Regions from separate parts of the Homo sapiens genome. Here region 1 is linked to region 2. Evidence: fine-mapped expression QTL. A gene starts in region 2. The other region holds a variant in brackets. All regions are shown on one strand. Distances are from middle to middle.

Region 1 (12,853 bases), 110 kb before region 2:
TCAGAGCCATTTCTACTAGCTGGAAAACTGACATTCTAGGCCACTCAGGGCTTCCTGGGGACAAGTGTCAGGAAGTGCTTAGCCCCATTGATCCTGGCTGCTGTGCTGGGATTCCACAAGGCTGAAAACCTGACTATCCTCCTTTCAAGACTTTGGCCAAGAGCTTGGTGAAGGCAAGGAGAAGTTCTGGAACTGAGTGGGTCTGGGGCAGGACATGGACTGGAAACACTTCTGTGTTTCAGGCACTTTATGTAAACATCCTCATTTATCCATAAAGGTATTTGTGAATAAGGTGGGAAACCTTATTTTCATTTTATAGACGAGGACACAGAGGCTCAGATAAATCAAATGACTTAAGTTCACCGGCCAGTATATGCCTGTGTCAGGAAGTATATTCAGGTCTTCCACACTCTTCCACTAGACCCTTCTCGGTGCTACCGATGGCTGGCCCTCCAGGAGACTATCTGGCATCCTGCCCCGTGCCCATCCCCAGGGGAGGAGCTTTGGATCTTTGTGGACACAGGCTTAGAGAGCTCCATCACCACTTCCACGGTGGGGGATGTGCATGCCATTGTGTTACTCTGCCTGCTTTCTGGAGCACCCCTAGCAGCTACTTCTGGACCCCAATTTCAGTGTCTTGCCTCATGCTCAGGCTGCATGCCTCCTGCCTCTCTCACATGGGCTTTCCTTCCTGCTGCAGAGGCACATGATGCTGCAGGACTTGCTGGGTGTCCACACACAAGACCTGGCTTGCCCAGCCAGGCATGGAGAGCAGTGACCTGCAACCACTCGCAGACCTGCCTCCCATGCTGTGTGGATATGGCTTCCCCAGGGCTTCCCTGGAAGTGTAGGTGAGTTAACGTCCTATGGAGTGACTAATGAGAGACAGCAGATGGGACTGATCTGGATGATAAATTCTCTATTCTCAGCCTGATGGGCTATTCTGAGATGTGGTCTTTCCAGATAGTCCCCCTGGAGAGGTCCATCATGCCCATGCTGTGTATTCTGGTGGGCAGTGGCCAGGGAGCTGCCTGGATTTGCTTTCCCCATCTTCACTTCACACACCTCTCATGCAGCAGCACTTTGTACTTGCTTCCCCTCTTCCCATTCTTCACTTTCCTTTTTCCTTCAGTTTTATTTCCCTTAGATTGCAACTCCCTCACTCTAATAAAGTGTTAGCATGCAACTTTTACCCAGAGTTCTGTTTTCTAGGCAACACAGGCTAAGACAATAATAACAGTAAGAATAATTTTTTTTACCACATATTGAGTTTACTACGTGAGTTACATCATCTCACTGAATCCTTGCACAATCTCTATGAAGAAGGTACTATTATTATCACCATTTTAAAAACAAGAAAATGAAGTATCAGAGATGTTAACCCATTTCCCCTTGGCCCCAAGAATACTCGCCAGCATGCTTGCTGCTGCATTGTTTACCCTGAGATAACTCATGGATTGCAGTCCTAACTTTACCCCCAAAGTTTACCACCACAAAATATCTCGCTTTTATTATTATTTTCACATCACTCTAGTCTATCAACTTTGGAAACAAAAGACAACATTATATTAATGGCATTCTGTTTTTAGTAGTGGTCTTTCCATTTATGAAATTTCCATTTATGAAATAATTCCTGATTGCTGAGAATGTCAAATCCTAGAAAACGTAGCATTCCTACATGTGATTTTTTTTTTTCTAAATGGGAACATGCTCTGGTCACACGAAATGTAAGTGGCAAAGTGAGGATTTAACTCAACTCATCTGTTCAACTCCAGAACCTGAACTCTAAACCACCCTTGAATAAAGTTGCCTTTAACCTTGAGAGATAGCAAGGAAACAGCAGTCTCTGCAAGAAGCCACCTTCAGGAGACTCCCAAGGATTCCCAGGAAGCCCAGGGAGAACCTCAGGGGAAAGCTCTCAGATACTCACGTTGTAAACGCTGGGTTGTATTTGGCACCTCGGTAGTAAGAGTACAGGTTGAACATCCCAATCATGAAGGCCACAAATACCATGATGAAAATGACCATGAACTTGAAGATATCTTTCACAGTTCTCCCTAGCGAGATCTGCAGGGGCCCAAAACTCTCGTTGGCTGGCAGAATGTATGCAATGCGAGAGAAGCTCAGCACGACGGCTATCGCGTAGAGCCCTTCCGATATGATCTGAGGGTCTGAAGGCCACCACTTGTCCCTGGCTAAAAGAAAACAATCTGGGTTACTCACGAGGCCACAGGATCTATTCTAGAAGAGAAACCAGTTAGGCATCTTTAGAGGTCTCCAACTGCATCATTTGCCATTCTTGTCCTTGTCCTTAAATTAATCCCAATATCCAGAAGTTGCCACCCTCCCTCTTGGAATGTGCTGGACCATCTGCCTGGAACACTCTTCTCTCACTTCGAAGTATGATTCATTCCTAATCCTCCTCTAAGACTCTGCTCAGGCATCACCTCTTTCAGGAAGCCTTCTGTGATCCCCCTTACCCCCACCACGGGCTGGGCAGGTTCCCAGTTTCCGTCTGTGCTCTCATTGTATCCTGTACACCCTCCATGTCTTGGCACTCACCAGGCCACTTGCTATTCTGTCTCCCTCACCAGTGTTTAGCTCCATGCTCAGGAGCTGTCCCACTCACTGGGGAGGCAGCGCGAGGAATAAGATGGGCAAGAGCATGGACTTGGGAGTCAGACATCCCTGAGGCTGAATGTGGCCCATCCACCTACTGGCCACATGACTCTGAGAGACAACTAACTAACCTTTTGAGCTTTATTTTCCTCCTCTCTAAATTATGGATAATATCCATTTCACAGGACTGTGGAGAGGATGAAATGAAATCATACATGTAAAGTGCTCAGCACAGGGTCTGGCACACAGCAGGTACAGATAAGTGTTTGTCAAATGACTGAATAGACTTTTAACCACAAGTTTAGACCAGACACAGGTCAGAACAAATAAGCTCACATGGGGACCAGGAATCTAAAGGATCTTGCCTGAAAAAATACTCTTGGGTTTTGTTCCTCAGGTACTGTGTGCTGGGATATTGCTCCTTGATTAAGCTAAGGCCCCAAAGTGGTGACCAGTCAGGCAGGTTTGCCACGACAGCCCTGTTCCAGGTAGGCAAGGGTCCTAGGACTGATCCTGAGCTGGGAAGGCTCTGCTTGTGGTCACTGTGACCACAAGGGCCTGAGCTCTCCTATGGGTATTTCTGCTGCAGAGCAAACCTGCAAAGTGTTCCTATTGCAGTTCTAATGGTACAAGGAGCAGCACCTATCACGAATCAGCTGTCTATTACATGTCAGTGATTCTCAAGTGAGGGCAGCACTTCTCTCATGGAGGATGTGTGGCGGTGTCTCTGGTTGTCAAAGTGACTGAATAGGAGTACTACTGGGATGCTAATGTCCTGCAATGCTCCAGACAGATCTGTACAATGAAAACTGCCCTGCTGGAAAAGCTAATAGTGTCCCTATTGAGAAATGCTGAGTGAAATATTAATTGAGAAGCATTGAGAAACCTAAATTAGCACTTACACTTACATTAGCTGTAATTTTCACAACAGCCCTGTAGAGTAGATATCATTATTGCCATTTTTAAGATTGGATTTAGGGTATGGGGTCCTTTTCAGAGACCGGTAAATGCAGATAGCAAGGATATTACATAGCAATTCGTGGCATTCCAAGGGAGATTGAAGAGGAAGGCTTTTATTCTTTATTTTCAAAACTAGACTCTGTTAAATAATTATAATAATAGAGAGCAGTAAGAAACCTTTAGTAAAGGAAGCCAGGCCACAAAGTTTCATGGAGTGATTCTAAATTGCATTTGGAAATATAATAACATTACAGATTCTATGTTCTCATCAAGGTCATACCTCAAAAAACCATGAAAGACTAGTAAGCAGAATAAATTACATGTTTTCCAATATATCTGTCATCTTCTATGGATAAATATTTGGATAAGATAAAATAAGACATAACTTCTCCCGTTAAACAGAAGGCAAAAAGGAATTCTTTTTTTCTGCGGCCTCTAGCTCACCATCTTAAACCTCAGTCACAATAACAAGACACTCTTATAATCTACTCAGATAGATTTAGCTGTTGTCAGATCCTGGTGACTAGGTCAGGACTTATATTGAAAAATATTATATTTCAACTGACTTGTAAAGAGTTGTGATGAGTGTAGAATGAACAGCACTGTGATGATTTGGACAAAGGGGTTTTCTCCTTAGAGCTATTTCCAAGAGAAAAATTGCCCTATCACAACCTGAAAAATTGTTATCTGCGCATTTGGTGCTGTAGAGGTTGGAAGGAGCCACCGTCCAGCTGGCCACAAGAGGGCTCTCCTGCCCTGTAACTGGAGCACAAGTTAAGCCAGAAATCCAAAGGATTTCCAAGGGCACAGCGTGAACCGCAAATACAAGAGCAATAACGTACTATGCTTTGGGTTGGGTGAGACCTTAATACAACCCATAAAGCAACAGAAGTCAGAAGTGGACAATACTGCAGCCTGAATCCTGGCATTAAGAAAAGTACATAATGCAGCATCAATATTCTCTCTTCCTTCCTTGATGAACCCTAACAAGACAGAGGATAATATCCAAGCTATTTTGCTTTAAGAAAGTCTGAATTTGCCAAACCCCAAAATGGCAGAGGGTGGGTGGGTGGATGACTTGTAATACTACAAGACTCTCCATTTCTCAATGGAGATTTCCCTACCACATTTACATGTAACATAATCTACACTGAAAACGGGCAGTTACTCAACTTTTGCGTTAAGCGAACAACCCTCTGCAGATCATTGTTGTACCTGACCACAGAATCATTGTTGTATCTTACCATAAAGATTCTGTGGTCCCGGAGCCATCTGGCTTCATGTAACAGGGACATTCAACACTCAATCCCTTCAAGATGTTGTAGCTACCATTAGCAATTGCCTACTAAGTGTCCAGCTGCTTTTTACTGTTAACAAGTATCTACTGTTCCTTCAACTTTCAACATCTTTCTGTTTCAGTACAGAAATTACAGTGTTTGAACAAGAAAATGACCCAAAAGGTAGTAGTAAGACATAACTTATTTTAAAATAAGTAAGCAGATAATAGCTGCTACCATTAAGTGAGCATTTACTATTTTCACAGCAGAGTGCAAAGCGCTTCACATACACTATTTTATTCAGCCCTCAAAACAAACTTTTTGATGTAGGTATTATTATCTCTGTTTTACATATGAGAAAAAAGAGCTCAGAAAAGTTAAGTAAACAAGATCTCACAGTAAACTACCGAACTAGGATTTGAATCCAGGTCTCTTCTACTCCAAAGCTTGGGGACATAACCACTATGCTATTCAGCATGATTTTCAAATCATGTCAGGCCAGGATTCCCTGCTATACAAGGCAATCCTGTATTTTCTGGAAACATTATAAGCCCTGCTATAAAAACCTGATTCTTCATGTTTAAAATAGGGACAAAAGAAGGACCCTTTTTTGCCGGGCTATTTGCAAGAATTAGAATTGTGTGTATAAAATGTCTACACAATTCCTGGCACATAGTAGGTTCTCAATAAACATATGTTATAACTATTATTAGTATTCCTAAAGTCTCAATCTACTACATCAAACTGTAAGCCTTTGCATTTTGCAAGAATTAAGGTAATTAAGGTATCTTCTAAGAATGTATCTTGCCACCAAGCAATAACTAGGAAAGCAGGATTTATTTTTGCACAAAACACAGGGATCCAATATAGAAGGAAAATTCTTCCGCATATACATATCCCTTTAGC[G/C]CTCCTGGATGCACATCAGAAACAAGACGTTTCTTAAAAACAAACAAACTACAGAAATGTTCCCAAGGGCCTTTCAGAAACAAATTCACCCTTAACACAAAAAGATTCATTTCTCAAAGTCACTAATTCCACGTTCTATTCTGCTGGCTACACTTCCAGGACCAAGGGTTTTTTTGAGGTGGAAAGGATGCTCTGCACTGACAGTGGAACTGCCAAAGTCGGCTGTGTTACAAATCATGGGCCACTTGATTACAAATAGCGTTACAAGTTCACCAGCCACAGTGAAGCACCAGGCCCACGTCCCGGAAGCGCCAAAATGGAGTAGGGGAAGCACTCTCCGACTCACCGTAGGTGAAGTATGCCACTTCCGGCGGAAGCGAGACATTGTGCAGCGTGTCGTCCTGCACGTGCTGGTCCACGTACAGCTGTGCCTCCGTGGCCTTCAGGAAGGCCATGAAGCGTGCTGTGAAGGAGGCCACGAAGATGGACAGCATCCCGAAATCTAGCAGGTTCCACAAGTGCAGCACGTACTCCCGTGGCCCCTCCTCCCAGATTTCCTTGCATTCGGACCAAATCATTCCTGTGGGAGAAGGAGAAGGCCAGGCTCACTTTTCGTTTCTCTTGGCATTTGTGACCGCATGAGGTCATGGAGGGAACCAGAGTACAAATGTAAATATCAGCTCTTTGGAGCTGGGACCGTCGATAGCCAGAGGCAGACAGAAACGTGTTTTCAAAGGCAGATTTAGACCCAGGAGACTCAGAGACTTGGCCTTGTGCTTACGAACACACTGTCTCTGCAAGTGAGGAGAGAGTTTTCATTCGTTGATAGATTCTTGGAGGGAATATAGGAGAAATACAGTTGCTGACATTTATACACTTTAAGAACTTTAAGAACTTAAAGAATCAATTAGTCCTAAATTAAATATAGGGAAACTGAGGTCCAGGAATTGTAAAGGGCTTTCTGAAGGTCCCCCCACTCCATGCCCCAAATTCTACAGAAATGCCCCAAGAACCTAGAACTATGGTTTTTTTTGGACATAGAACCCAGTTTTTTGTTTTGTTTTGTTTTGTTTTTAAATCCCAGATTAGAATGCTTCTGTATTTCTGTGTCATGAGCATTAATTTAGGGTTATTAGATTTTTTCTTACTCTTTCATAACTTATTGGATTTTAAAGATATATGTCCTCATTGTTACATACTAAACAATATAGAAGTATATAAACAAAATGTTACTAGTTTCCCCAGCCTTCCTCTAAGCCAGCAGCCCTTTTGGCACCAGGGACCAGTTTCATGGAAGACAATTTAACACAGGGTGGGGTTGGAGTGGGGGTGGAGGGTGGGATAGTTTCCAGATGAAACTGTTCCACCTCAGATCATCAGCCATGAGATTCTCATAGGATGGCAACCTAGATCCCTCACATGCATAATTTACAATAGGGTTTAGGCTCCTATGAGAATCTAATGCCGCTGCTGATCTGACAGGAGCTGGAGCTCAGGAAGTAATGCTGGCTTGCCCACCGCTTACCTCCTGCTGTTCAGCTCGATTCCTAACAGGCCACAGACTGGTACCAGTTGGCGGCCCAGGGGTTGGGGACCGCTGCTCTAAGCCATCCCTGTGAGGTAGCCTGAGCTAATAGTTGATGAGTATCCTTCTAGACCTGTACTGTCCAATACCATAGCCACCAATCATATGTGGATACTGAGCACTTGAAATGTGTCTAGTTTGAGATGTGCTGTAAATGTAAGGTACACACCAGATTTCAAACACTTACTATGAAAAAAGAATGTAAAGTATCTCATTAATAATTTTTTGCATCAGTTACATGTTGCAGTGATTAATATTTTGGATATGATAGGTTAAGTATGTTGTTAATTTCACCTATTTGTCTTTATAATATGGCTTTTAGAACATTTAAAATTATATAGCTCATGGTTGTTGCTTGCCCTGTATTTCTATTGAATAATGCTATTCTATACCTTCACATTTACTGATTACTAAATTATTACTATTTAAATTATTTTAAATTACCGGCATACCTTGTTTTATTGCACTTTGCTTTATTGTGCTTCACAGAGACTGTGTTTTTTTCAAATTAAAGGTTTGTGGCAACCTTGTGTTGGGAAAGTCTATTGATACCATTTTCCCAATAACGTGCTCACTTTTGGTCTCTATGTCATATTTTGGTAATTCTCACAATATTTCAAACCTTTTCATTATTATATTCATTATGGTTGGTCTGTGACCAGTGGTCTTTGTGATCTTTGATGTTACTATTGTAACTGATTGGGGGTATCATGAACCACTCCCATATAAGATGGCAAACTTAATCAATAAATGTTTTGTGTGTTCTGACTGCTCCACTGACCTGCTGTTTCCCTGTCTTTCCCTCCCCTCGGGCCTCCTATTCCCAGTATTTCAACAATATTGATATTAGGCCAATTAATAGTTCTACAATGGTTTCTAAGCTTTTAAGTGAAAGGAAGAGTTGCATTGCATTTCTCACTTTAAATCAAAAGCTACAAATGATTAAGGTTAGTGAGGAATGTGTATCAAAAGCTGAGATAGGCCAAAAGCTAGGCCTTTTGTGCCAGACATCTAAGTTCTGAATGCAAAGAACAAGTTACTGAAGGAAATTAAAAGTACTACTCCAGTGAACTCATGAGTGATTGATTAAACCAGCTATGGCATTCCCTTAAGCCAGTGCCCAAACCAGAGGAAGACCCTCACTCTCTTTAATTCTATGAAGTCTGAGAGAGGTGAGGAAGCTGCCAAAGAAAAGTTTGAAGCTAGCAGAGGTTCGTTCATAAGGTTTGAGGAAAGAAGCCATCTCCATAACATAAAAGTACAAGGTGAAGCACCAAGTGCTGATGCAGAAGCTGCAACAAGTTATCAGAAGATCTAGCTAAGATAATTGATAACAGTGGCTACAGTAAACCACGGATTTTTGATGTAGATTAAACAGCTTTATCTTGAAAGAAGATGCCATTTAGAACTTTCAGAGCTATAGAGTAGACATCAGTGCCTGGTTTCAAAGCTGTGTAGGGCAGGCTGACTCTCTTGTTAGGGACTACTGCGGCTGGTGACTTTAAGTTGAAGCCAGTGTTCATGTACCATTCCAAACCTAGGGCCCTTAAGAATTATGCTAAATTGACTCTTCCTGTGCTCTATAAGTGAAACAAAAAAGCCTGGATGACAGCGTATCTGTTTACAGCATGGTATACTGAATATTTTAAGCCCACTGTTGAGACTTACTGCTCAGAAAAAATATATTTCTTTCACAATATTACTGCTCATGGACAATGCATGTGGTCACTTAAGAGCTCTGATCGAGATATACAGGAGATTAGCATTGTTCTCATGCCTGTTAACATAGTATCCATTTTGCAGCCTGTGGATCAAGGAGTAATTTTGACTTTCAAGTCTTATTATTTTAAAAAATACGTATCATAAGGCCATAGCTGCCATATATGATTATTCTTCTGATGGATCTGGGCAAAGTAAATTGAAACCTACTGGAAAGGATTTATCGTTTTAGATGCCATTCAGAACATTAGAGAATCATGGTAGGAGGTCAGAATATCAACATTAAATGGAAGAAGTTGATTCAAACCTTCACGGATAACTTTGAGGGGTTCAAGACTTTAGTAGAGGAAGTTACTGCAGATGTGATGGAAATAAGAGAACTAGAATTAGAAGTAGGGCCTAAGATGTGACTAAATTGCTGCAATTTCATGATAAAACTTCAATGGATGAGGAATTGTTTCTTATGGATGAGCAAAGAAAATAGTTTCTTCAGAGTCTACTGGTGAAGATGCCGTGAACATTGTTAAAATGATGACAAAGGATTTAAAATATTCTGTAAACTTAGTTGACAAAGCAGCAGCAAGGCTTGAGGGTATTGAGTTTAATTTTGAAAGAAGTTCTACTTTGGGTCAAATGCTATGAAACTGCATTGCATGCTACAGAGAGATCTTTAGTGAAAGGAAAAGTTAATTGATGCAGTAAACTTTATTGTCTTAAGAAATTGCCACGGCCACTTTAACCTTCAACAACTACCATTCTGATCAGTCAGTGGCCATCAACATTGAGCCAAGACCCTCCACCAGCAAAAAGATTATGCCTTGTTGAAGGCTCAGATGATTGTTAGCATTTTCTAGCAATAGAGTAATTTTAAAATTATGGTTCTCACTTTTTTTAGACATGATGCTGTTGCACGTTTAATAGACCACAGTATAGTGTAAATGCAACTTTTCTCTGCACTGGGAAACCAAAAATTTCCTGGGACTTTCTTTGTTGGGATACTTGTTTTGTTGTAGTGGTCTGAAACTGAACTTGCAATATCCTTGAGATATGCCTGTATTAAAATGTAACTATTCAGTTTCAATTTGAGCACCTACTATGTGCTAGGCACTGCCATATGTGTATATGTATTATCTTAAATCCTTGCAACAATCCTATAAAGTACGTTCTGTTATTATCCTATTTTTACAGCTAATGAGACAGTGGCTCAGATGGTTGTAATGTGCCCTGCTAGGAAGCAGGAGATCTGGAATTTGAACCCAGAAGGTCTGCCCCTAGAGTTCATGTTCTTGACTGCTATACTCTTCTGTCTCTCCAGGAAATAAAATTGGGCTCAAATCAGTTAGAAAAGACTCTTGAACATTTTATGTCATCAAAGAGTCTTACGACTACTCAGACCTGGGAGAGCTTTGTTGTGGAACAATGCTACACTTAACCTGTATATTTAGAGGGATTCACGTGGTAAAAGAATCACCAGCTGGTCAGTGAGTGAAACAATTCCAGCTCAGTGACCACACACTCCCTAGAGGCTAACACCGATAGCCTCTTTTGGCAGTCCCTCGGCCCTGTTCATCAGACATGATGGCCTGCTTTCTTTGGTACCTCCTGCCCCTCCCATTGCTCCTCCTCAGTTTTCTTTGCTGCTTTTCTAACTCTGCCCACTCCTTAAGGGCTGCAGCTTTCCAGGTTTTTGGCCGTTCCCATTCTTCCCTCTGACCTCAAGTTAGTGCATCTAGCCCTGAAACTTTGTCCTTCATTTCCTTGCATATGTCTCACAGATGAATATCTTCCTAATTTTCCTTAAGAACTTCAAAGCTGAATTCCCCCCATAGAGAGAGACTACTGTTAGTGGGTTAGTGGATGTCTTTCCAGTGCCAATATTACATCCCTCAAGCTGGCCTCCCCATCCCTCCCACCCTCACTGTGTCATATCCTTACCCAGTATTCCCACTCTTGCACCCCTGACTCTTCTGGCTGTCACCAAGGATCACTGCAGTTCTGCAGATCCTCCTCTAGTGGATGTCAGATCCATCTTGCTCTTTTAGTCTTCAACTCTATTCTCTGACCTCATAAAGTTTGGGTCATATCATGGTCACTTCTGTCTTCAGATACCTGTGGTGTATTTCTCATAATACCAAGATAAAGTCTAGACTCCAAAGCTAGGCTGTCATTCCTATGATATTCCACAGTTTTTATACACCCTGTACTCTAGCAAAGCAGGCCCACCTAACAGTCCTCCAGCAGTTCCACCCAACCATTTGCTTGTGTTTCTTCCTTTCTTTTTCCCAGACATTAACCCAAGCACACTCACAGATGCCTACATGATAACAATCGCCTTTGGGGGTCCAGATGCTGAAAAAGCCTGGTGTCATAGATGATGCTGGGAGTAGACAGTAATGAGGGCTCTTCCCTGGTCAGAGCCTGGCTGACTTGCTCACAGGCCCACATGTGGGCACATTCGAGTGATGAGCTGATCAGTTTTACTTGTCTGGGACTATGCCCAGGGACTATTTTAATCAGAAAATTTCCCTTTCTGTTGAAAATGGCCCATGAAATAAAAGGATTTAAAATGTTTTTCTTTCTTTTTTTTTTTTTTTGCGATGGAGTCTCACTCTGTCGCCCAGGCTGGAGTGCAGTGGTGCGATCTCAGCTCACTGCAACCCCCACCTCCTGGGTTCAAGCGATTCTTCTGCCTCAGCGTCCCGAGTAGCTGGGACTACAGGCACACGCCACCACACCTGGCTAATTTTTGTATTTTTAGTAGAGACGAGGTTTCACCATATTGGCCAGGCTGGTCTCAAACTCCTGACCTCGTGATCCTCCCACCTCGGCCTCCCAAAGTGCTGGGATTGCAGGCATGAGCCACCACTTCCGGCCTGAAATGTTTTCCTAAGGAGAAAAGTAATTTGAGAGCAGCTGTTTGGAGAAGAATCATGGCTTTATTTAATGAAGATCTGCATATTTGTATCAAATTGGAATCCCCACAATAGGAAATATTAAAAAAAATTGCAGGTAGGTTTACCCTACAATGGTAGGGCAGAACCAGCCCCCTCCTTTTTTGTTAACAAAGCTATGTCTCAAGTATACCGTATCAAAATTTTTGTGGTAATTCAGTGAAGTAATTTCTTAACACTGAAATACACTTTCATCTGTGACTGTGCAACCGGTATTTTTTAAATGGATTTTAAAAATAAATTTTTTAATGGATAGAAAAATAGTGTTTGTTGCTTTCCTCTACCCCCAAATTAAAAATCTCAACATCTGAGTGGAACTGCTTTTAGCATGGCACTAGGAGAGTCACAGGCTGTAACTTAAGAGTGATTGGCTTTAATTCAGGAAGCCCTGGGTTCAAGTTCTAGCTTGGCTACCTATTAGCAGTATGACTGTGGCTAAGTCCCTTGATTTGCTGTGGGTCTTAGATTCTATATTTTGAAATGAATGAATTTGGAGTTTGGAGGTAACTTCAAGTACTAAAAGCTCTATGAATCTGAAATGCAAATTATTTTCAGAAAACTAACTTTTCTGACCCATATAGTAGCTTCTCATTGGACATTGGGAATCACTTCCTCCATGGTCAAATGTCTGCATGAGTCTTCTTAGATTTAAATATTAATTCACCCAGATGAATTTAAATTATTCCAGGGCCATAAGTAAAAGTAACATGGGCCCAAGGGTTTGGGCAGCAGGAATGCTTAATGAAAAAGGAATTGTGTGAAATTAAGTATTTTAGTGAGTGAAATTGGCCCCCTGCCGCCACAGTGCCAAGGATAGTTCAGCGTTTTATATCCAA
Region 2 (12,853 bases):
AAAAGCAGTTTACACTCAAGAGCATCTGAGCAGTGTGTCAGATACGAAACAGCAGCTGTCCGAGAAGAAGCTGCAATACAGCTTGATTCCACGGCACTTTTCCATTAGAGGTCTGCTCAAGAGGGAGAATAGGTCAGACTACAAGGTCAAGGGTACCCAACTATTACACAGCAACAAGCCATGGAGAGATTAACTCAAAGGAAATTTAATGACTACTGAACCAAGTCATAGCAGAGAAATATTTCACAAGGAACACGTAAGTACTCAATCTAAATTCAGAGTCCCTGTGAATATCATAGACACTGCAGCCTACAAACTTAAAGGATATTCAAGCATTGTTTGTTAATTCCACTCATTACAAAACAAAACAAAACAAAACAAAACATAAAAAGCAAAGTATTAGCATTCTCATCTTTTAGGTGAAGAAACTCTGGTAGGTCAAGTGAAAAGACTAAATCTTAAGTCCTAAGACTTTGGACAAATAATTTCTGCACAAGGGTAGGGCATCATATAAATCTTGATGTTTCTACAATAATTATGTTTTATCAAAAAAAATATGTGTATAGCTAGTACTTGGCAGACGTTAAAATGTCCTCACCATTTGACAAGCATTTTTCTGAATGACCTTGAAAGCAGACACCCAGATGTAGTAAGAAATAAACAAGACTCTTTCGCAGCCTTTAAAACCTCAGCCTTGAAAAACATTTGGATGCTCACAAAATCATCAATTCTGTTCCTTTCCTAGCAGAATTTAGCATTAAAAATGAAATCTTATGAGCCTTAGAGTCATGTATGCATATAAGCAGATAATGGCATGTGCTACTCAGTGAAATTGCTTCCAATGCGAGGGGCTTCACAATAGACTATGAAGCCATGAGAATTGATGCAGATATTGATGGAGGCCTTTTAACCTCACTGTGGCCTTTTTATTAGCTCTGACTCCCTCTTACCCTAATATCCCTCTAATGATACTTTTTAGACATTTATGCACTTGTGAATATATTCAGCCACCATATCCTTGCTATTTAATTTTGATATCACAGATATTCATGTTTTAGCTATACATATCACACGGGTTGGAAAGAATCCACAAAAGATGCTGTGTCAGAAAGATAAAGTCACATGTCTCTCAATAGTTGGTGGCCAAAGCTTACACTCATGAATCAGATGTGCTGCCCTGATGAACTCTGGAGATCTTATCACAGTTTTAGGGCCAATGATAAGCAAAATGAATCTCCCTAAAATGCAATTGGCATTTGATTGCCCTTATTTTAGTATTTTTCTTAAAAATGAACTTTGAATGCAAATACATTTTTATTTGCACATATTATTGAGATAATGTGTGATTAAATACCCCAATTAAGACACTTTGTTTTACATTTTCCAGAAATGCATACAATTAACATTTGATGTCATTTGGAAGAAGGATTCCAGCGGAAACAAAACCATATATGAGAGGAGGACTGATTATTAAACTCCCTCTTGATCCTTCAGTTGTTATTTTTATCAAGCTGCTCTTACAGATGCATCAGCCAGTCTGAAGGAAGCCAGATGTCATTGACCCATGAAAAGTATAAATCTTGTGCCCTAAGTCCAGCTGCAGATGAGCATGGCCATAAAGCCTTTTGGAGACAGAAATTGTGGTTAATTACTGAAGAAGAAAAGGCCACTTAATCAAAATGTTTTTTTAGAGATATTTGTTGTCTCTTTTCTAAAATGCTACATGCATCAAAATTCTCTATGGAAATTATCCAAGCTTAAAATCAATTCAGCCTGTAATATTCCCCAACTGGATATAGAACCAAACAGAATCTAGGAGTCAGATCAAACACCCAGGAAAACTCAGCTTTGATCTGTGCATCTTCTCCCAAGAGTACATATTCTGAGTATTAGTCTAGAGCAACAGTGATGAAATAGTCATTTGGAGTCTTCTCCTAAACCACAGTTCTCTTGCCAAAATAAAGGGAGTAATAAAGCCCATTCCTCATGTTCCTCAGGAGCACAGTGAGGATTAAATAATGTCTACCAAATGCCCTGGATACCATAACACTTTATACAAATGTTCATGACAATAATGATCAAAATCTTACCTATCAATGCACTTAGGTACACAATTATTAGAATTGTCTCACATTTTACTGTACATTGATATACTCAGCTTAGCTATTTTTCTAAATGACTATACAATAGTTATATTTAACATATATTACACATTTACCATGTAGACACTGTCCTAAGTGCTTTACATAAATTACTGTTTTAAATAAATTATCTTCTGATAAGGTTAGCTATTTTCCTGAATGACTATTTAATCATAGTGACTAACATTTGTTTCACATTAACCATGTGCCAGCCACCATGCTGAGTAATTTATGTACATTGTCATTTATATTTATTTATTCATTTATTTTTCAAATAAGATATAAAGAGAAATTTAACATTATAGATACTCAACACAATAAAGCCAGCCTGTAAAGACAAATGGCAATGTAATGATGAATGAATTGTAAATATAAACATATAAAAAAGGAGGTAAGTACATAAATCATTAAGCAAAAATGATTAGAAATGTATAGCGAACATGACACATTTGAGAACATGCATTATCATTTTAAGTTCTCACAAACTATTACATGGTTTAGGTGCTATTGTCATTCCCATTTAACAGATGATGAAGTGATGGTCAAATTAATTAACCACTTTTCCGAAGCTACACAATGTGTCAGTGGTGGACTCACTATTAAGGATCTAGTCTGTCTGCTTTGAAAGTTTGTGCTTTTGGCTAGTATGCCACTGCCAGCCATCTTCTTTTTGTCTTTCTGTTTTTTTGTTTTGTTTTGTTTTTTGTTTTTCTGAGTTTCTTTAGGCTATAACTTTTTCCATTAGAGTTCAAGATCCTTGAGGGTAGGGAATACTCGTGTATATGGCATATGCACCTGGTGCCCTGTACTCCTGATGCCTTGCATATGGTGCTTGGTCAATCAACTTAATTCATTCCTAAATATTTGAATCTGGGTTGATCATTTAAGAAGATCAGTACACTGGAGCTGTTGGTGTTTACCAGCATCTTCCTTCTCACAAAATGCAGGAGCCATATAATTCTATGACTGTTATTTCCTACTTATGACTGGCAACATTTAAAATAAGGTATGAATTCCTAAGTAAAATCAGTTTCTAATTAGCTCCACTATAAATTATGGCCCATAAGTTGCTAGATGAAGCAGCTAATATCAGAGGGCATATGATGTCCCTTGGTGACTGAGCAGAAAATTGAGACATTCTCACTTCTTCACACTACTCCTGAAAATTTTTACATATTTCCCAAGGCATCCAACTTATTTCTAAGTATCACCTTCCTTTTTCTGTTGAAATTGAGGTGAGATAGTGAACGTAAACTATTTATCATTGCCTTGTAAGTGCTCTAGTGAAATTGGATATTATTAGCTCTATTTAACTTATTACAAATATATTAATTGTGGGTTTAAGGCATTTAAGTTCCCATCTAAGCTACTGATAATAATTTGCTTGTACAACATATATACTTTAAATAAAAGAAAAAAAAGATATATACCTAACTACCCCAAGGTATACACGAGTTCATACATTTCACCAGTTAAATCCTACAGGAAACAAGCAAAGTATCCTTCTTTTACTCATTAAAATGTTTTATATTAAGATATACTTTCCAAATAATTCTACTAATGTGGGATGGTTTTTCCATTGCATCTTGGAATAAAAATATTATCTAGTGTTCCTGAATGTTAATAAGTGTTTCTATTAGTAATTTATTTTCTACCAAGTAACATCATTTAGAGAAGAAGTTATCCTCAGTTTTTTCAAACTGTCCTAGGTACCACCTATCCAAATATAACTAGTGCTTTGTATGTGCTTCTATTTTTCTTTTTACTTTTAAAATCCTTATTTTCCTATTTGGAAGTTGGAAGTTATGAAACTGGATGTCTATATCTCATTGTGTATAGCTCCAGGTGGAGCTGAAACAAGTTTTGATAGCTTTATTTTTAAAAAAGATTTTTCTTGAAATAAAATAGATATGTGTAACCTTTTGATGATTTCACTGACCTCTATGATAAGAGTCTGAAATAAACATCTACTACTGAGAAAGAAAGAGAGGCCCTTATATTATGAAATGACAATACTGAAAAAAAGTAACATGCTTAATATTTATATGGAGGGAAATGTTGATTGCCTTTACTAAGCAAGAGCTCCTGGTAGCTCTCATCCAAGATACCGCATGCATTCTGCAATTAGCCTCAATGAGGCTCCACATAGTTCTGATTTTTTTCTGGGTTAATTACTGCCTAAAGGAGTTATCTAGTCTACATGCACCTAAGTTTAGGAGCAAGTGTTTTTGGAAATAAATATTTATGAAAGGGTAATTGTGACATAGAAGTTTGGTAAGCTTTTAAATAATTGAATCAATGTCATTGTTAAAAAGATCTTGGAGATTGGGTTTGCATCACATCCATAATGAATATTCTGGATTTAATGTGAATTCATTCATAAATTTGATGTGTACTCGGTGCTTCAGAAATAAGACCCACCAGCAGGTGGCATTCTGAGGCAAAAATTCACTGAGTGCCACCAGACAGGGTCAATCATTATTGCCTTTTCTGAGTCTACCCTGAATCCATTACGCCTCTAAATTATAATTAATAGCAATAGCATTTTGGTTGTGTCTACTCAATCATAGGTAAATGAATTTACAACTTCAAACTTAAAGGGGAGATTATGAGAGTTTCAAAGCTCTGCCTAGATTACACCTCTTTCATTAGGAGCATATTTGTTATTTTGAAATGGATGTCTAAAGGAGATACATAGCTCAGACCATATTTTCAACAAGAAGAAAAGAAAAATGACAATCTCTTTCTTGCCACCTGTAGTTCTTTAACAGTGGCTACTTATTAGAATATAACCCTCTCCCTTCTCTCACCCCTATATTTATATTATGATAAATACAACCACATAAATACATTAGAAAGCTGTCAGTAGTGAAGGGAAAGAAGAGACAACACCTATACACTCATCTAGGAATAAAACTATATTACTCTAGCACAAAAGGAATAGGCTACCGACATGAGTTGTCCGTTTCTAAATGGCTTTGAAAACTTAGACATTCTATAAAAGAAAAAAAAAATTTCTTCTACCAACTCAACAAATAAGAAAGATCTCAGATCCATCTAAAAATCTAAGCAGTGCACTAGAGGAAGAAGGCTGATAAATGAAAGTTCAATTACATATTTTAGCGAGAACACAACCTCTACTGGAAAAAAAAATCAATATGAAAGAACCATCATAGCTGCTTACATTGAGGGTGTAATACGCAGGCTTGTTCCTCCTCTAGATGACCGGAATCCGGTGTTGAGTCGCCAGAAGCTGGCTCCCCATGGGTGGTAGCCAAGGATGTACCGCTCTCCGTGGTGCTGAAGTATAGAGCTGGTCAAGTGAGTTAAGTTGCAACGATGTGAAAGCGCGCTCCTCTGTTCTTTGTGTTGCAGTGGTAAAAACTCGCCTTCCGAGGCAGAACCGTGTTACCGTCCTTTTCCTAATCGGGGGGAAATTTCCCAGAGAACATGACGGAGAAGCATCTGTGTGAGAGTGGCATGCGGCGTGGTGATGGGTTGGTATAGTCCCCACCCCCTCTCCCCGACGTAGCTTGAAAGGGAGGTAGCAACTCTTTCTTCCTGCCATAGCTCCTCAGGATTTCTACCTGCCCTTTCCTCTGCCCCAGAATAGTACATCACACACACACACACACACACACACACACACACACACACACACACCTCGTTATATAAGGCAGCATGTTCTGACTTCTGAGGCAGAATATTCATTGGTTTAAACAAATGAGGAATGAGGAATGAGGAATGAGCTGGTTTCCTACCTGTTGTGTCTGTGTGTTTACAGAGGGAGGGGGTTAAGAAGAAAACTAAAACCAGAGAAGCCTAAAGAGCGATAGAAGTAGTTTTCTTCCGTAAGTCTCATCACCACACCACACTTTGTCTTCTGTGAGTGATGTATCTTCCAACTTTACTATTTTGGTTCATGATCTTTTAGCATTATCTAGGATCAGGAAGAGGTCAGTGGTGTAGAACAAGTCTCACATTAGTAACAAGACTAAAAGGGTTAGCTTTCATTTGCAACTTTCCATTTTTTGAAACGAAATTCTCAATCCAAAATACCATTTCCCCAACAGTTCCCACGCTCACCAATTGCTATGTAACCAAATGGTCTATGATTCTTAAACACTGAGGTACTTTAATGACATCATTGGAAAGAAACCGTCTTAACTGAAATATTGCCTGTGTATGAAAAACCACAGTTGCTTCTACAATCTACCTGGGTTACTTACCAATAAATCAGAGTGGTTATTTTCTGAAATCAACTCACAGCTTAATAACTGACACTCTGTAAAACTGTTGCTGTGTGCACTTGCAATACTTAGGGCTAAGGAGTTGCTTATAATGTATTGTACACATGACCATTCTAGTTTTACATCCAAATGAGATTGCATTGGTTTGTTAATATGCTACTAGTATTTTCTCTGAAGATAACATGATATGTGGGAAAAGACCTTGGGATTTTGATTCACTTATTAACTGTGTGACCTTAGACATAACACTTAACCTATTGAATCTCAGTCTTCTCATATGTGAATGGTTGGTAATAATAGGGTTTATAATGCCTTTTACCAATTGTCGTGGTGATAATTAATTGAAAAATCATGTACAAATAACTCCAAAGAGCTGGCATTTAAGGTGTGCATGATAAGTTTGAAAGTTCGTTTTAATTTTTTAAAAATTTGAGACAGGGTCTCACAGTGGTACAATCACGGATCACTGTAGCCTTGACCTCCCAGGCTCAAGTGATCCTCTTGCCTCACCCTCCACAGTGGCTGGGAATACAGGCACATACCATCAGACCTGGCTAATTTTTAATTTTTTAGTAGAGACCTTGTCCCACTATGTTGCCTAGGCTGGTGTCGAAATCCTGGGCTAAAGCTATCCTCCTGCCTCGACCTCACAAAGGGGTGGGATTACAGGCATAAGCCACAATACTCGACCCAGTTTGAATGTTCTTTCTCCTCTGCTTGCTCAATAGAAGTTAAGGTAGTTCTCTAGTTGTGGGCATGGTAGTGTGAACCTGTAGTCCCAGCTACTTGGGAGGCTGAGGAATAAGGATCACTTGAACCCAGGAGGCTGAGGTTGCAGTGAGCTGAGATCATGCCACTGCACTCCAGCCTGGGTGACAGAGTGAAATCCTGTCTTGAAAAGCAAGCAAACAAACAACAACAACAACAAAACCCTCCAAAAAGACTGGCAACAAATGCATTTTATTCTTATAAGCCTCCACGCAAGTTTTACAATATTAATAATTATGTTTCATTGGATAAAATACCATTCTAAAAAGAAATTTTCTAATATCAAGGCTTTCTTAAAAAAATTACAGGCTTGAAGGATACAGAAATTTTATTTTTTATTAGAATCAGAAACAAGTAGATTTAATGCATTTGAATAAAATGCTAATGAATTAAGAGCTCTTTAGTATTGCAATGAAGTGGAACAAAATATAAATGTGAAGCCAATAAAAGTGTCTTACACAACCACAAAGTTAGAAGATTATCTCTGACAAGTGATAATATCCTTTTGATTGGGATCCTCATCATCATGATTAGTGAAGTAGTGTAGAATGAGATAACTCTTAATTATACAATACTTTTAAAAGAATACTGGTTTATGGCTTTTAGTTAATGACGGAATTGAAGTCTCATTATATTCTGTTTTTAATAAACAGCCAAGAGTGTATTTTCATAAAACTCTGACATGAATAATGTCCTTGTTTTCAGTATTGATAAGCTCATTAAAAAATTAAACCATATTTCAGAAAGTTGTGCCAATGATGGTATGACAGTCAAATGTATATATATATATATATTTTATATCTCTCATACACACACACATATATATATGTATGAGAGAGAAAAGAAATGAGTTAATTGTTTTATAGATGTATTCATTAATTGAAGACAAGTCAGAGTCAGGCCAGACAGCTCTTCAAAAGTGATAAGATGACATTTTGCAAAGGATCCAATCTTCGGGATCCTTATAATTGGAGTACTTTATCATTTCCAGAGCATATCATACACAGATATTTGGTTCAATGGGGCAAATACTTGTAATCTGAAAAAATGTTGCATCCATATCAAATTATCATTTTCAATATATAAAACACAGAAGTAATTAGGACTTCACTATCAACAGTGAAAGTTCAGAAGGTGCTCAGCTTTTGGACTAGAGGATGTCTAAATTTCCTGCATAAGGACTTGAGTTTTGCATCTCCCAGTCTCAACCCAACATAGGCTCACAGTAGAATTTAGTGGTTAAGAGTGTGTACAGCTTCTAGTAAAATTTTCTGTTTTAATTCCAAATTTCCTATTCCCCAAGTGTGTCCCTAAGTTTTATCACCTGTGAGATGAAAGTAACAACAGTTTCTCACTTGTAGAATTATAGCGAAGATAAAATGAGACAACACACATGAAGAGCTTACAGCAGAGCCTGGCACATAGAGCTCAGCCTATGTCAGCTTTCACTATTGCTTAACAACTCACCCTGTGACTGAACAGTGAACATACTATTGATCTGTGGTTCTCAGACTTTGTGTGCTCCAGTATCGCCTAACTAGCCTGTTAAAAATATAAACATACAAATTTCTCGTTCCCTAGAAAAATAAGCACTTTATCTCCTTAAGAACCTAAAGTGATTCTGATGCAGATGATTCATAAATCACACTTTTGGGAAACACTGTTATTGTCTATTGAATGACTAGGTCGTTTTAGAAACCAAAGCCATGAATATGAAGGTTTATTTCAAATAAATGAATCTTTTGGGAGACTCATTCTCCCTTTTCTCCCCTCTCAGAATGTTCCTTAAGTCTATGCAACTTTGTGTGGTTATTAGTCAGGTCTGGCTCTTTCTCCTAGATAGAAATATATTGAGCAGACTTCTTAGGCATTAGATTTAAGGAATTAATGTAAATCAGTTTCCATAGAAAAATTCTGGCTGAAATTGCTAGAAGCCACTATACTGAACCCACTTAAAAAGTAGATCTCTCTCATTTTGATTAATGACAGCATCACCGTAAATCTTCTTTAGAGTGAGCACAAAATCTGGGGAAAAATTTTGTGCTGTAGACTGTTCTCAAGTAATGAAAAATTGTGTTTTTATTTACAAACAGGGAGTGACTGGAAATAGCACTATGTCTCAAAGTGATGATAAGAATGATGCCAATTTAATTCTATTCCTATTTATGTGTTTTATGAAAAATTATTCATCTTTCAGTTTGGGCTATAACTGCAGATTTCAATGGTTATGCTTTTACAGGATTTATGTAAGCTATAATTGGCTTGTAACCTATTAAAGGTTTCTTACAAAAGCAAACTGAAACCCATATGAAATATTTATTGATTGCTATTGTTTAAATGTCTCCTCCAAAACTCATGTTGAAATTTAATTATCATTGTAATAGTATTAAGAGGTGGGACCTTTAAGAGGTGATTCATTTACGAGAGCTTCACCTTCATAAATGGATTAACACCTTTATGCTGGGAGTGGGTTACTGGGGGAGTCCAGCTTCCTTCTCTGTCTCTTGAGCTTACTCTTTTGCCTTTCACCAAGGGACAATCCTTTGCATGTGGTGCCTTCTGCCCTGTTATGACACAGTAAAAAAATCCCTCACCAGATGTGGCCCTTGATCTTGGACTTCACAGCCTTCAGAATTATTAGCCAAATAAATCTCTTTTCTTTATAGATTACCTAGTCTGTGGTATTCTATTACAGCAGCAGAAAACAGACTAAGACATTTGTATTCTGCCTTTAAAAAAAGATTTAAGATGGTGTGGTCAGAATGGAAATCCTCCTTCAATGAAAGAAGTGTGCAGGAATGGCAGTCAGTGGATAGCCTCCAGCTGCCATATCCTTCAGGGTGTGCCTCAGGTACAAAGAGCCACCTTTCCCAGGGCCACACCCTTTGCAGGATAGACTGTATTTTGTGACTGAGCAAGGTGAGAGAATACAGACCATTTCAGGAACATGCTTACGTGCAATACTCTTTCCAGGGCTTGCTGCTATATTGCCCACATTATCATAGCTTGATTTCTTCCTCTCCCCAATACTGCTTCCTCCCTTTTCCTTTTAAAAATGTTGAACCTTAATGAATATTTTTCACCTTAAACTCTATATCAGTGTCTACTTCTGGAAAACCTAACCTGTATTAATTGATATCAGGAATGGATTGAGCAACTAGGTGATAAAATGGGATGTTTGAGCTGGATTGCCACCATGTAGTTGGCGCTGACCCTATCACTGGTCATAAATGGAGCACAGATGGCCCATGAAACAAGGTGATGGTCCATTTAAGTTTTCACCTGTGGTGAATTGGGATGTTATGCTTGTGGAAGAGAATGCATTGGTAAGTGGAAAATATGCATTTGAAACTCACCAGAGAAATAATAATGACAAGCACAATGGCTTTGGATAGCTATCATTAAATGCCACCGATATTCGGCAGAAAGATGAGTAGCTGAAGATGCGTAATAGGCAATAGAATTCCAGGTGTAAAAGCTGGAGGACATCTTGGTTGCAAAGAAGCTCTTAAAAACTCTGTTGGGAGAATATAGAAAGTCAAAGTCTCAGCCTGAGAAATCATATTCAGAGTGACTGAATTTCACAGATAACCAAATGGCCATCTAAGGATGGTCTGTCATGTCAGATTATCACCATGTTTAAGAAAGTCCAGAACTCTAAAGAGATAGAGATATCTACATGATGTCTCAGAAAATTTTGTCTCCCAGTTGACCCTCAATCACTAGAGTGATTGGTTTTAAGACCCCCAAATATACAAAATCTGTTCGTACTCAAATCCTGCAGTCATCTCCATGGAATCTGCATATAGGAAGTCAGCCCTTCATATATGTGGGCTTCACATCCTCTGAATACTGTATTTTTGAGCTATGTTTTGTTGAAGAAAATCTATAATACATATAAGTGGACCCACATAGTTAGAATCTGTGTTGTTCAAGGGTCAACTGTACATCTGAACCCTCTGAGCCTGAAGACATGGTCCATCCATCCATATTAAAAGCTAGCAGCTGTCACCTCGTGGAATACATTATATAGGTCTCACCCCCATGAGGTACACATGCCTGCCCAGAGTCTATACTACATTCCTTCCTGCCCACAAGGCCTGTAACTAAGGTTAAGTTGTACTCAGGGTCTGAGTTGACATTAATATCCATAGAGCCATAATATAGCAGAGGATGTTCTAAACCTGATTAAGTCAGGAAAGGGACAATTTCCCAAAAATGCTATAGGAACTAGCCAACATGTATTGGAAAAAGCCAGGGGAGTATATTTGGAATGGGATTCTGAGGATGCTTGACCAAGGGGCCCTGTAATACAAATTAGATGGTGAAGAGTTTATTGACTTGGTAATGTTCTCTTCAATTGTAGGATTTCACATCTTGGCACGGTTCTGGGGGATGGTGTGAACTTACTCCTAGAATGGTCTCTGGAAACATAAAAAAGGAATAGTTCACATCACACAAAGCTGGAGTGACATAATTTTCATGGCAAAAGATGAAGGAAAGAAATGAAAAGTTTATAGATGTGAGGATGCTAGAATCAATATATCCCGTTTGGCTAGAAGGTCCCTGAGGTGATCATGTTCATGGGGCCCAGAGGACACATCTTTTTACCAAAGGCATCATAAATGCACTGACTAAATGTCCACCAGGATCACTGAAATTTTCATTCATGGTTCTCTTTAAGCCAAGGTTGATGGTGGGATAGTCTGTTACAGAACTTACTCACTGGTAACAATGGGCATCAGAGAACCCTGAAAAAATAGAGGCCAGGTGGAGGTGCTTGAACATCCTAAACCAGACTGTTGCAATTATTGTAATGACGAGCAAGATTGGAGGGTAAGGAAACATGACTCTCAGAGTTATGAAAATGGTTAATAGAATATAGCATCCCTAGGGACAAAAAGAGGCAACTGACTAGGATATTATTCAGTTTGTGCCTGTAGAAAAATCAGGAAAGGATGACTGGCAGGCTGAGGATGTCATTCTGATAAAAAGTTGTAATTCCACACCATAAATATGTATTACTAAATGAAAAGGCCAATCTGAAAAGGCTGTATACTGTATGATTCCAACTATATGACATTCTGGAAAGGGGAGAGCTATGCAGATAGTAAAAATATCAGTGGTTGCTAGCAGTTAGGGGAAGGGAGAAATTAATAGGAACATCACAGAGGATTTTTAGGGCAGTAAAACTGCTCTATATGATACTATAATTAAAAGTAGATACAGGTCAGGCGCAGTGGCTCACACCTTTAATCCCAGCACTTTGGGAAGCTGAGGTGGGCAGATCATGAGGTCAGGAGATTGAGACCATCCTGACCAACATGGCGAAACCCAGTCTCTACTAAAAATACAAAAATTAGCTGCACACGGTGGCACGTGCCTGTAATCCCAGATATTCGGGAGGCTGAGGCAGGAGAATCGCTTGAACCCGGGAGGCAGAGGTTGCAATGAGCCCAGGTCATGCCATTGCACTCCAGCCTGGGCAACAGAACGAGACTCCATCTCAAAGAAAATTAAAAAAAAAAAAGAATGGATACACAGCATTACACATTTGTCAAAACCTGTAGAGTGTACAACAACTTAATATAAACTCTAATGTAAACTATGGACTTTGGGTGGTAATGATTTTTCAGTGTAGATTCAGTGATTGTAACAAATGTACCGCTCCAGTGTGTGGTGTTTATAACAGGA

Alleles and levels. Positions count from the first base shown, and alleles are read on the strand shown. Sizes are in standard deviations (SD) of each study's normalised expression.
As copies of C replace G in region 1, the expression in testis of the gene that starts at base 5,618 in region 2 goes up (small effect, 0.26 SD a copy in GTEx).

The links.
Region 1: its variant is fine-mapped to the expression of TRPC7 in testis (GTEx, PIP 0.90).

What each region holds. Positions count from the first base shown.
Region 1 is chr5:136,245,541-136,258,393 of GRCh38, forward strand. It overlaps TRPC7 (transient receptor potential cation channel subfamily C member 7), which reads right to left. Exons shown (of 12, transcript NM_020389.3): 6 at 6,109-6,342; 7 at 1,931-2,195. All of the region lies in intron 1 of TRPC7-AS2 (TRPC7 antisense RNA 2), which reads left to right. Among named protein-coding and RNA genes, the nearest start is that of TRPC7-AS2, 25 kb to the left of the region's middle. RefSeq lists an enhancer at 5,664-6,164 and a silencer at 5,847-6,047. The variant G/C (reference allele first, on the strand shown) is at 5,763.
Region 2 is chr5:136,359,928-136,372,780 of GRCh38, forward strand. TRPC7 (transient receptor potential cation channel subfamily C member 7) reads right to left here and starts at 5,618. Exons shown (of 12, transcript NM_020389.3): 1 at 5,326-5,618. The coding sequence starts at 5,327.